Linked DNA regions of Homo sapiens: region 1 is linked to region 2. Evidence: fine-mapped expression QTL. A gene starts in region 2. The other region holds a variant in brackets. All regions are shown on one strand. Distances are from middle to middle.

What was found. PIP is the estimated chance that this variant, and not a neighbour inherited with it, causes the effect. A credible set is the group of variants that fine-mapping cannot tell apart.
Region 1: its variant is the best candidate, but not a certain one, in a credible set for the expression of HDAC9 in whole blood (TOPMed, PIP 0.66).

What each region holds. Positions count from the first base shown.
Region 1 is chr7:18,211,931-18,217,320 of GRCh38, reverse strand. It overlaps a transcript of HDAC9 not described here. Among named protein-coding and RNA genes, the nearest start is that of MIR1302-6, 87 kb to the right of the region's middle. The variant T/C (reference allele first, on the strand shown) is at 2,177.
Region 2 is chr7:18,493,547-18,498,936 of GRCh38, reverse strand. It overlaps HDAC9 (histone deacetylase 9), which reads right to left and starts at 3,188. Exons shown (of 26, transcript NM_178425.4): 1 at 2,914-3,188; 2 at 2,613-2,675. The coding sequence starts at 2,634. RefSeq lists an enhancer at 3,410-3,459.

The sequences.
Region 1 (5,390 bases), 280 kb after region 2:
AAACAAAAGGCAAATCTTAATATTCAAGAAAAAGATAAAATAGTAAAGTAACAAAAGGGGGATGAAAAACACAGAAAAGAATAAAAGAATTATAAAGAATATTATGTATAGTTGGTTGTTAAAGAATGAATTTTAATAGTTCAATAAAATTAAAAGATCATCCCAGCTGAGTAGAATATATAAACCCTAAAGAGATGAACAGTTCTAGAAGAAATTTAAGTAAACAACTATTGTCAAATAAACCTGACTGATTTTTTGCGTGGATTCTTTTAAACATTGAAGGAATGGAAAAATATGGAATTTTTTAAAAATCTGTTTTAGAATGTTACATTCTGCTAGTTGATATGGTAAGTCAATACGGTTTTAAAAAAAAGTCCCTTCCTCAAGATACTTTACTGTCCTCCTTTGTAAAACTGTCATAATAACTATGCAAATGACAATATTATAGGTGGCAGTGTACAACTTGTATAATCATAAGTGATGGGCCTAGTAACCCTGACACTAAAACCTGAAAACCAGCTGACAAAACAGAAAACTATCATTCAGTATCACAAATATAGAGGCAAAAATGCTAGATGAAATACATTCCAAACCCAACAGCATATTAAATAATAATAAAACATGTCCAATTGTGTTTACATCAGAAATCCCAGAATGGTTTAATACTAGGTAATCTACTAATGAAGTTACGACATCAATAGGTCAAAATATGTTAAAACAGAACCTATCCCTGCATGCTAAATAACATGCAGTCATCTCAATACATGTGCATAGGCCAGGGTAGTTCTATAATATAATAAAGATTCCCTATCTTTAACTTACAATGAGCACCTTATTAAACATTTAGCAGAGTTGTTTCCAACAAAACCAGATGTACAGATGCCTATCACCAACATTAGGAAGAAACTGTAACATTCTTACCAATACGATAGAAAAAGAACTAAAATTTGAAAATATTGGGATGGCAGATTATGTATACTTATAATATTACTGATTATCTAATAAAAATAAGAGATTTCAGTGAAATCCATGAACTTTAATGAGATTTTGTTAAACTTTCAAATATGCCAATAAGAACAGTTGGAAAACTTTCTGGGAAAAGCTCCAACTAACCAACTAATCAATCAACCAATTAATCAATCTCTCTGTTCTATCTCTCAAACTCTCTCTGTCTCTCTCTCTCTCTCTCTCACACACACACACACACACACACAGACACGCAGGCACACACATACACACATACATTTCATGCTGCATACACCTAAAAATAAAATTGTGGTATTTACTGAAAAAAGAAAGGAAGGGTGCCTTCTGAAGAGGTGCGAGACGAGAGAAGCCATAGTGAAGAAATGACACAACTCTAGAAAGCCATCATGCATATGAATATGATATACCAGATGAATGACTTCTTTCTTTATGAGAAATGTTTCAGAAATTGTCTAAATATGTATTTATATGATTGACAAAAACAGCTTGGAATATGCCAATGGTGCCCAAGGGTATATAACAAACATTTTCAGCCCAATGCTTATCTTTTCTTCAGGAAGACCAAGGCAAGAAAGACCCCCATGAGATGAAGTAAATACGTTTTCCTTTCATCTACTATTTCCTTTGGAGTCACTAACCTTCAAAAGCCCCACTATTCGGGGACTACATTTTATGTCACAAGAGAGCAGTGCCCCCTTTTGGTGCCAAATGCCAAAAGTTCTTTGAGGGCAAGGACACAGTCACTTCTGCAGATCCTCAACACTGCCACATAAAATCATTTAAGCAAAGCAAACTATTAAGCTACCAATCCTTCACATGGTAAAAGAGGAACAATTTACCCACATTAGCATAAACATGGATACATTTGGCAAAGATCACTTTTCATGTATCATGTTCTTTTCTTGAACACCAACTATAGGACCTTACATGCTAACAGAAAACTGATGTATATTAATTGAGTGCATAGGCCTTGTTGGCTCTTTCTAACACAAATCTCTTGACATAAAGAAAGGACCGGGACTTTCTCTAGAACTAATATGTCTATAATGTCTCTCATCTAATGATATCAAAATGCTTTTTTCGACTGGCCCACGGAGGTATCAGATTTCATATTCAAATCTAGATCTTGCGTACAACTCTGTGAAATATGAAAAATAGAGTTCAGTAATTGTTTGGATATAAAATTGTC[T/C]AATAGAATAGGGTAGAATAGAATAATCCATTTATTAGAAAGGAATATTATCTGTTTCTCCCTTTCATTTCCAAGAAACAACAAATAACACCAACTCTTTGCTAACAAACAGCATAAGCCCATTATCATACCATAGTACTTAAGTATAAACTGTTCTATTATTTTATGGTATCTTTCAAGAAGTACCATTTTATAGCTGCAAATGAAAATAATACCAACAGTATGCTCTTCCAAAATAGTCAAAAGTAATAAGATCTTTTCCATGCCCCCATCAGTTTGCTTTGAGTGGACAGAACCATAACAAAGAGGTCTTTTTATAAACAATGCTTTGCTTTATTTCCTGCTACCTATGACAGAATTTGCAGGTATGCCCTGCTGCATTCACTAATGAATTTATCTCACTTTGTTAAATAAAAACATAAAGGTATTATTTTGCTTTTGTAAATGTTATACACATTATATATAAGCTTATATATAATGGCTATCATATATTATATATAAGTTTCCTATGCTGTTTCATATCACACAAGTGCTTACCAATTTCTTCAATTACTACCCATCAGTGTAATTCTTAACTATATACTGGAAAAGCATCAAAGTGAGATTTTTTCCCCAGCAGTATGAATTATTTTTAAAGCACATCAGTTATAATTCATCTAACAAGGTGGGATGAGAGAGATCAGACTCTTTCACATACAATCTGAGCTTAAAATAAATGCTAAGAAGCAATACTGTAAATTCCTTGAAGTATATGAAGATGGCCAGAGGCATGCATTTACCTCTGAAAAAGCAGCCCTAGTTAGGTCAAATGCCAATTTTCATAGCTTAATGGGTGGAATTAAAGATCCTGAGCCAGACACACCATTAATACAAGAGTAGCTTCAAATTCTGGCTGTAATACTTTCTGTATGATGTTGAATAATCATCATTCTAGTGATAATTCTAGAACAATTATACTCTATTAATATAAAAATGTTATATTAATAGTGACATCCTTATCTGCAAAACAGAATAAAAATATATACCTTATAATACTATGTTGTAGTGAGGCTTAAATGCAATAATGTATAAAGTGATTAGCATAGTTCCTGGTAAGAGTAAATAAACCTGTAGCTACTATTATAATGATGTTTATGTTCTAATATCACTTATCCTGGAAATGAAATACCCTCTCCTCTTAAACTGGGGAAGGAAAAAAACAACTGCTGGGTGATTACTAAACTTACAAAGCTGGAAGGACTGGAATTATGGAAAAATTATGACTCAAGAGATCCTTCAAAGGTACTTCACAGTCTGTTACATGATGCCTGGTAGACATGTCTCAAGAAATAAAGCACAGAATATTTCAATTCCTGTAATGGGAAACCAGGGCTTAAATACGCTTTTCCAAGAAGTGGTGCCACCAGTGAAAATGGAAGAATTGATAGTTTCACATCTCCTAAAAGTAGGCTGTATCTGAGTTTAGGTCTTACAGTGTGAATAGCTTACACATTTAGCTTTACTATTTTGTCTGAATAGGAGCTGAATAAAATTAGAATTCAGCCAATATCAGTGACTACGTTTGCAGTCCTCAGCTGATGAAAATCAGTCATGGCTACATAAGACTAACAGAGAAAATTTCTTCTCAAAGAATACGATCATAAAAGAAAAATCCCAAGAACTACCACATTAATAAGCATCTGTAAGCAAGCAATAATTCAGTAACTATTATCAGAGTTTATAGTAATTAGACATGGGTAGAAGAAAGTTAAAAATTAGCTAAACCATCTTTCTACACGTAAAGCAACATAATTTCAAATATGAAAAATCCTGGTCTCTTATATATACATGAGGTTGTAAGGAGAAAAATGGAGGGGGAGGTCATGAATACTGCTCATCATTCTCTAAATGCCAAATTGAAAAATTAATCACTGGCATACAATAACTTTTGAACAGTACTCTGTTCCATGAACAGATATTTCTGTAACCTGTCAAAAGTATTCTTTGTCTTGCCCTAGAGGGAAAATTTATTAAAATAAATTAACATTTTACTGGGTCTCTAATTGGAAGTGGCTGTTCTCAACAAACATGTTTATCAAACACTGTGACTGGCAAAATGTATTACTGTAGCTGTAGTTATCCAAATTACATGCTGTCTAAAGCAAAAAGGGCAAAAGCCATCTGGCTCATATAACTTGCGTTTTCTAGACAGCTTGCAGCTGGTTCTGATTAAGCAGCATCTCAGAACTCCCAGAAATCTATTTTTATCCCTGGAAGTGTATTTTTAGGACTCACACATCCAAGGCACAGGGCATTTACATTAATAAATGAACAACCACTTTGATTAGGAAAAGGTTTATGTGACACTTTGGTTTAGTCTCCAGCTGCACAGATGGACTACAAGTTGTATATGACAGTCTGAAACCTAATCTTTGGAACTTACCTGCTCCCTGGCCATTTTAGTATCTCAAGGGAGGAACACAGAAAAGATGCCTCCTCTGTCTTATGAAATAATCAAGGAAATACATCGTAACAAGAAACTTCACTGCAACATCTTACCTATCCTAGGAGGCTGGTACAATTATTATCCCATTTTACAGATGAGTAAACAAAGGTTTTGAAGGCTAAATAACATATTAAATGTAAACAGTCAGTGAATGATACAGCCAGGACTCACATCTGTATCTTTGATGACGCAACAAGAATTCACACCCGTATTTTCTGGCTACAGAGCCTGAGCTAATATTAACCACAAGATTATGCTGTCTCATCACAGACAGGGTTAATAGTGAATTTTAAAAATGTATTTTATTGTAAGAAAATGTAATAATATTATATGAGGTAAAGAAGTAATCATAACTTTGGATGGAAGAAGCATATTAGAACATTCTAGAACTGAATAACAATACAGATTTGTATTAATAAATCTTACAATAAAAAAAGATAAAGAAGATTTTTTCTTCTAATTTAAATCTCCATAGTTGTATTATTCATCATCCTGTTTATCATCATCCTAATCATCAAATTGGGATGAAGTCAGACATAGGTGCTGGACAGAAACATGCAGAAAACATTTAGATAGCTATGAAGACTTGGACATTCTAATTTTTATAAGCCTCTCCCCAAAGAAACACAGTCAGAGAATCACTGAGCAACGTGAACAAATCAATTTTTTAGTTACTCAAGAATTCTCTTTATCCTTAATCCCAGGTGACTTTCCCCTTCGTTCACTCCA
Region 2 (5,390 bases):
GACCTACAATGTAACTCATGTGGCTTGTTCAGCAAGATAGAACATGGCATTGAAAACCAAGATCTTAGGTTCATTCACTAAAAACAACAATTCTAATAGTGAGTATACGTTTTAAAGACATATTGATACATCTGAACCTCACAAGAATGCTAAGAGGCAAGCAGGAGGACATCATTATTCTTCAGTTTGAAGATGAGTAAAAAAATCAGTACACAATCGGCTAGCAGTGGAGCTCATGCTAGAATACAGAGTGTCTGACTCCTAGAACAGTGCTCTCTCCACTCCTTTGCACTGCTGCCAGGCATCCTTTCTCTCTTTCAAATCCAAAGACTCTGCTTCTAAGCCTATGAATCACGTCCAGACCACTGGTCCAAAAGGGAGCTGAACAAGATTTGTAGCTAAATTAAGACAAACATACCCCTAATTTAGCAGTTAGCTCAAAGGACAAACCCTACTGATAGTGGTTCACCAGCATCACCATCTGTTCCCTAGCCCTACAGCAGTGAATCTCAGTTTGCTGAAGGTTAAGGTGGGGAGATTTTAAAAACCTCAATCCCCAGGCTGTTCCCCATACCAATTAAACCAGGCATTCTGGGAGTGGAATCTAGGTATCATATTTTGTAAAGTGCTTCTGGTGAGTCCAACTTTGAGAGCCAGTGCCTCACAGGAAGTATACAATAAAGACTAGGTGAATTAAATTTAAGAACATATATGAAATATATGGCATGGCAGGAAGGGTGTAATTGTTTTTATGCTTCACATTTTAAAAATAAATAGAACTTAGTGATTATGTATTTATACCAGACAGGTTTTGGGAGTTGATGTTAACCTACATCACTTTTCATTTAATAGCTAGCTGCTGCTTAAATGTTGCTTCTTGTAGAACTGGCCAAAGCATGGACAGCCTGAAGCACTTCCCTGTCTGAAAATCTTGTTGCTTTGTACACAAACCATTAAATGCTAGGAAAATGACAATCTCTACTGAAATGGGTGTAAAGCTGTATGTGATTATCAAAGATGTGGAGAAAAAAGCAAAGCTTGCAAACACCTGTAGCCAGCCTTAGCTTCAGCAGACACTTGCTACTTGGAAGGCATGTATGTTTCTACCATATGAAAAAAAATATCAAACTTGTAACACAGAAGTGAGGACTAAAAGGATAAAGCATAGTGCTGAAAAGATTTCTAAAATAGTTATTTTCAAAGGGTTCATCCATATTTTAAAAAATAAAATGCTAAGTTAAATGACCAGTCCCATTAGAGACATACCTGTTAAACCCTCCCGGAGCCCTTGTCAGCTTTGCAGCTATAAGAATAAACTGTACTGAAATTCTGGTAGGTTTGCTTTTGTTAAGCAGGCACTATTCATTAACATAATTCCTGTCACTTAAGTGTATAAATACCAAATTATGCAAAATTGATATTTTATTCTGATTCCATGAAAAGATTGGGTCAACAGAAGGATCTTAAAATTAACATAACTAACCAAGGTTTAAAGAAAACTAGCTTTAAACATAGATCCCCATATGGGAAGGTGTATTAACACCAAAACAGACATCATGCCAACCTGTGGAATATTTCTTTCACACCTAGCTCTACAAAGTAAACACTGCTTTATGTGGCATTCTTATCATGGAAATCTAGGCGGTGATCTATAATTACGATTAAGCCCACATGGGAAGTGGGATCTAAGTGAGAACTTTAAGCCAATTTTAGGTTGAAACATTCAGAAGAGGACAGAAACAAAGAGTTCCCAAAGCTTTAGGAAATAGCCATAGGAAATAAATATGAAAGGCAATAATTACACGTTAAGTGATACTGCCTGGAGAGTATGTTCATTTAGTAAGTATAAATTGACAAGGCTGACAAGCTCAATCTCCCACCAGCTCATCTCCTTGAGAAACTAGAAATTAGAATCTGTTCCTATTATCCTTTAAAACGCTGCACCTGCTTTTAACACATTTACATGTGTGTTATGCCATCACATCTGCCTGACAATGCTAGACTTCCCACATGTTTTTGAAGAAAATTAAAATAAGCATCTGCTAATAACAATTTTATTTCATCCTAAACAGTTTCATTTGGGGCTGATGAGAAAAAGCCACATAATGGAAAAAAGAAAACTACCTTTATAACTCTGTGGCAAACACATTTTAGAAGGTAGGTCTATAAATAGATGTGCTTCTGTAGGCACAGAGTAAATATAAAATCGTCAGGCTAGCGGGGCTGCAGTTTAAACTGAAGCCCCAATATGAACTTACCTGATTTTTAAAGTCCTATTAGAATAGGCTTACAATCAGTACACAGCTCCTTTTTCTAGTTGCATAGTAAAGGCAAAACACCCCCAACTACATTTTACTTATCTCAGTCTCATCTTTCATCAGAAGCAATAGTTTGCAATTTCATTCAGAAGCTGCTGTCCCTAAGCAGACTGAATATGCACAGAAACAGTAATGGAAGGGATCTAAGTTAAACCCTACAGACGCACCAAGAAAATAGCAACATCAACACGAAAAAGCAGCAATTTCCTTAAGAGAGGTGCTTTTCTTAGCTGCATTTCCCAAGCCAGCCCCCTTTCAAACCTAAAACGTCTCAGTTATGAAAGAGGATCTTACCTGAGCTGATCATACTGTGCATTCTTTGCTGAGCCAAGAGCTGCTCTCGTCCAGCCACCCCATCTGAGGAAAAACAGGAGTCACTCTCGTAAATTGTCTGCAGCATATTCCAGTCACTCTTACTTCAGCTACATGAAACATTCATCACTGCTCAGTGCACCGGCCCCAGGAGCTACCCTCGCTGGTTCTCCCTCCTCCCTGAGGAGAAGCAGCAGAGGATCAACTTCGACAATGATTTCCTTTCTGCTCAAATGGGCATCCACTTTTAAAAAGACCTGGACACTTTTCCCATGTTACCAACCTGTGTGCAAAGCAGAAAGGACAGAGTGGATGCTATAGCTCTCTGGAGTTTAGGTTATCCCGGAAACTACAAGCAGGTGGGAAATAGGAACGTGCTTCGGGGTTATTTCTTTGTCAGAATACGTAGAAAATTATTAAGTCTACCCACGAGAAAAAGAAACCAATTAAACCTGGCTTAGAGTTCTTCAGGCTGCTAGGGTTTTGTTGCAAAAACCCTCAGTCCTGCAAGTGGCTCCAGCCGGTGCCCTTCTCCTATCTGTGTCTGTGCCTCTCTTCCCCCTTTCTCAGTCTCTCTCAGCTCAAGTTGGCTAAAGCGAGTGATAATCCATTTGCATATGAATCAACAACAGCATGGCCCACAGGCACAGAAATAGAACAATGGTCGGCCTGAGCCAAAAATAGGTCAAGCATGGCCGAGTGATTGGAGCCTGCATTAATGCATTTAAAAATACCCCAGCAAACCCAGCTGTCCAGCCTCTATCTTTCCAACCATAATTCTCTATCGCAGGGCCTTAAAACCAATTAACTCTTTCCTCTCTCGAAGCTTGCTTTACACACTGTGTTTCCATACTGGCGATTCGCTTCCAAAGAAAGGAAGGCAAGAAAAAAAATTAAGAATCATAATTCTAAGAGGGCAAATGCACATACATTTCATTTCATTTTATTTTTGTAGTATGTGTTTTTGGAAGAGAGAGGAGAGAAGTACAGAGCTCTGTATTGGTTCTAAAATAATACTGGAAGCTTTTGCTCATAATGTGGTTTCTGCCTCACCCACGCACAGCAATCCTGGTGTTCTATTTTTGTTGCCTGTTTCTCAGGCTACACTGCAGTTGGCTGTAGCACTAGAAGCTTTTCTGCCTTCTAGTTTCAGGACTAACAGGAGATTTAGCAGAGGTACTTTTGGAAAACAAGCACACCCCAGAATAAAATTTTTATGAAGGACAGGCTTGATTTTTTACTTGCTATTTATGCAAGACAATTGTCCATTTCACAAATCCTATTGTATCTTAGTACCACCTATGAATTTTATCGCATCCATCCAGTTAGTACTATATCTATAAACAAAACAAAACACAAAACACAAAACCGTGGCTTATATGTGAAAATTTCCCCTCAGCCTCTCAGGCTAAATTCAATTTACTTGCAAAAGGAAAAGAAAGTAGTCTGATTTCTTATGGATACAGAATTTCTGAGCATATGCACCTGTTGATGGATAAATCATATATATGGTTAGTACCCAACTATGACTGTTCTGCATTCAGCTATACATTGGTTGCCCGAAATATGGACCTCCTAACTTTTCTGTAGAAATAGCATTTATGATAGTCAATAGATTACCAGACACATTGTGGCGTTCAGCTATACAGTACAGTAGATAGTATCAGAGTTTTATAGTCTCTGGTGCTACATTTATATCCTTTCTATATAAGAGATAAATTTTACATTCCAAAGAGGGATCCTAGCATCTTGTCACTTCCAAGAGCAAACCCAAAAGTGATAATCTACTAGTCATGGAAGCTCTTTTCTCTTTTCTAAACTAAATCAGCGAGGAAAATGTAATTCTAAGGCATCAGAAGCAACAGGGGAAAGAGAGGAAAAAGCAGATTATTTCAAAATTCCCAGAACAATCCGATGGAAGAGGGATCTTGGTCAACTCCAGAGTATGAAGTCAGAGGGGGCAAACAAGGGGACACAGAGTTTTGATGAAAGGGAAGAAATAAGCACGTTAAATCATTCATCAAATAGGCCACTGCTGAATTCCTCTTCTTTCACAGATTAATTTCTACTGAATACTCTACTTCTTGAAAAATTGTATTTGGATATGTAAGTTACAATTTTTAAAAAATATATATTCCAAACTGCGTTTGACTTAAGCTACACAACAAAATCTTATGTTCCTGTCAGTGGAAAAAACAAAAAGCAATTATCTGATTCCATCTGATATTACAAATAAACTTTTGATTACAAAATTTATGTGTAAAATTCAAAGGATAGAAACAGTGTGGACCTAATAATTTTCCTTAAGGATGATGTACTGAAGTAGTAACTATCATCACATTTTAGACCTGGGAGGAAATTTAGAGATAGTCAATTGTAGTTTTCAAACTCTGTCTCATGACATAAGGTACCTGCGAGTTGCCTAAGTTTCCTCAAAAAAGGTTCTCCGTGGAACCAGGGGAGCTCCACTTTTACCTGTTTCCATTTGGAGATTTGAGATTTCTTTTGAAGAACTTTTTTTTTTTTTATTCTACAAAACATTTATGTAAAGAACATTTTTTAAATTGCGGTATATTTGACAAATCAAGATTCTTTATATTTCAGGTGTACAATTTGATGATTTGATACACCTATACCTTGTGAAATAATTACCATAATCAAGCTACAAATCTATCATCTCAGCTAGTTACCATTTTTTTTGTGGTGAGATCAGAACAAGAACTTCTTATATTAAGAAAAACAATCATTGAAATTCACTCA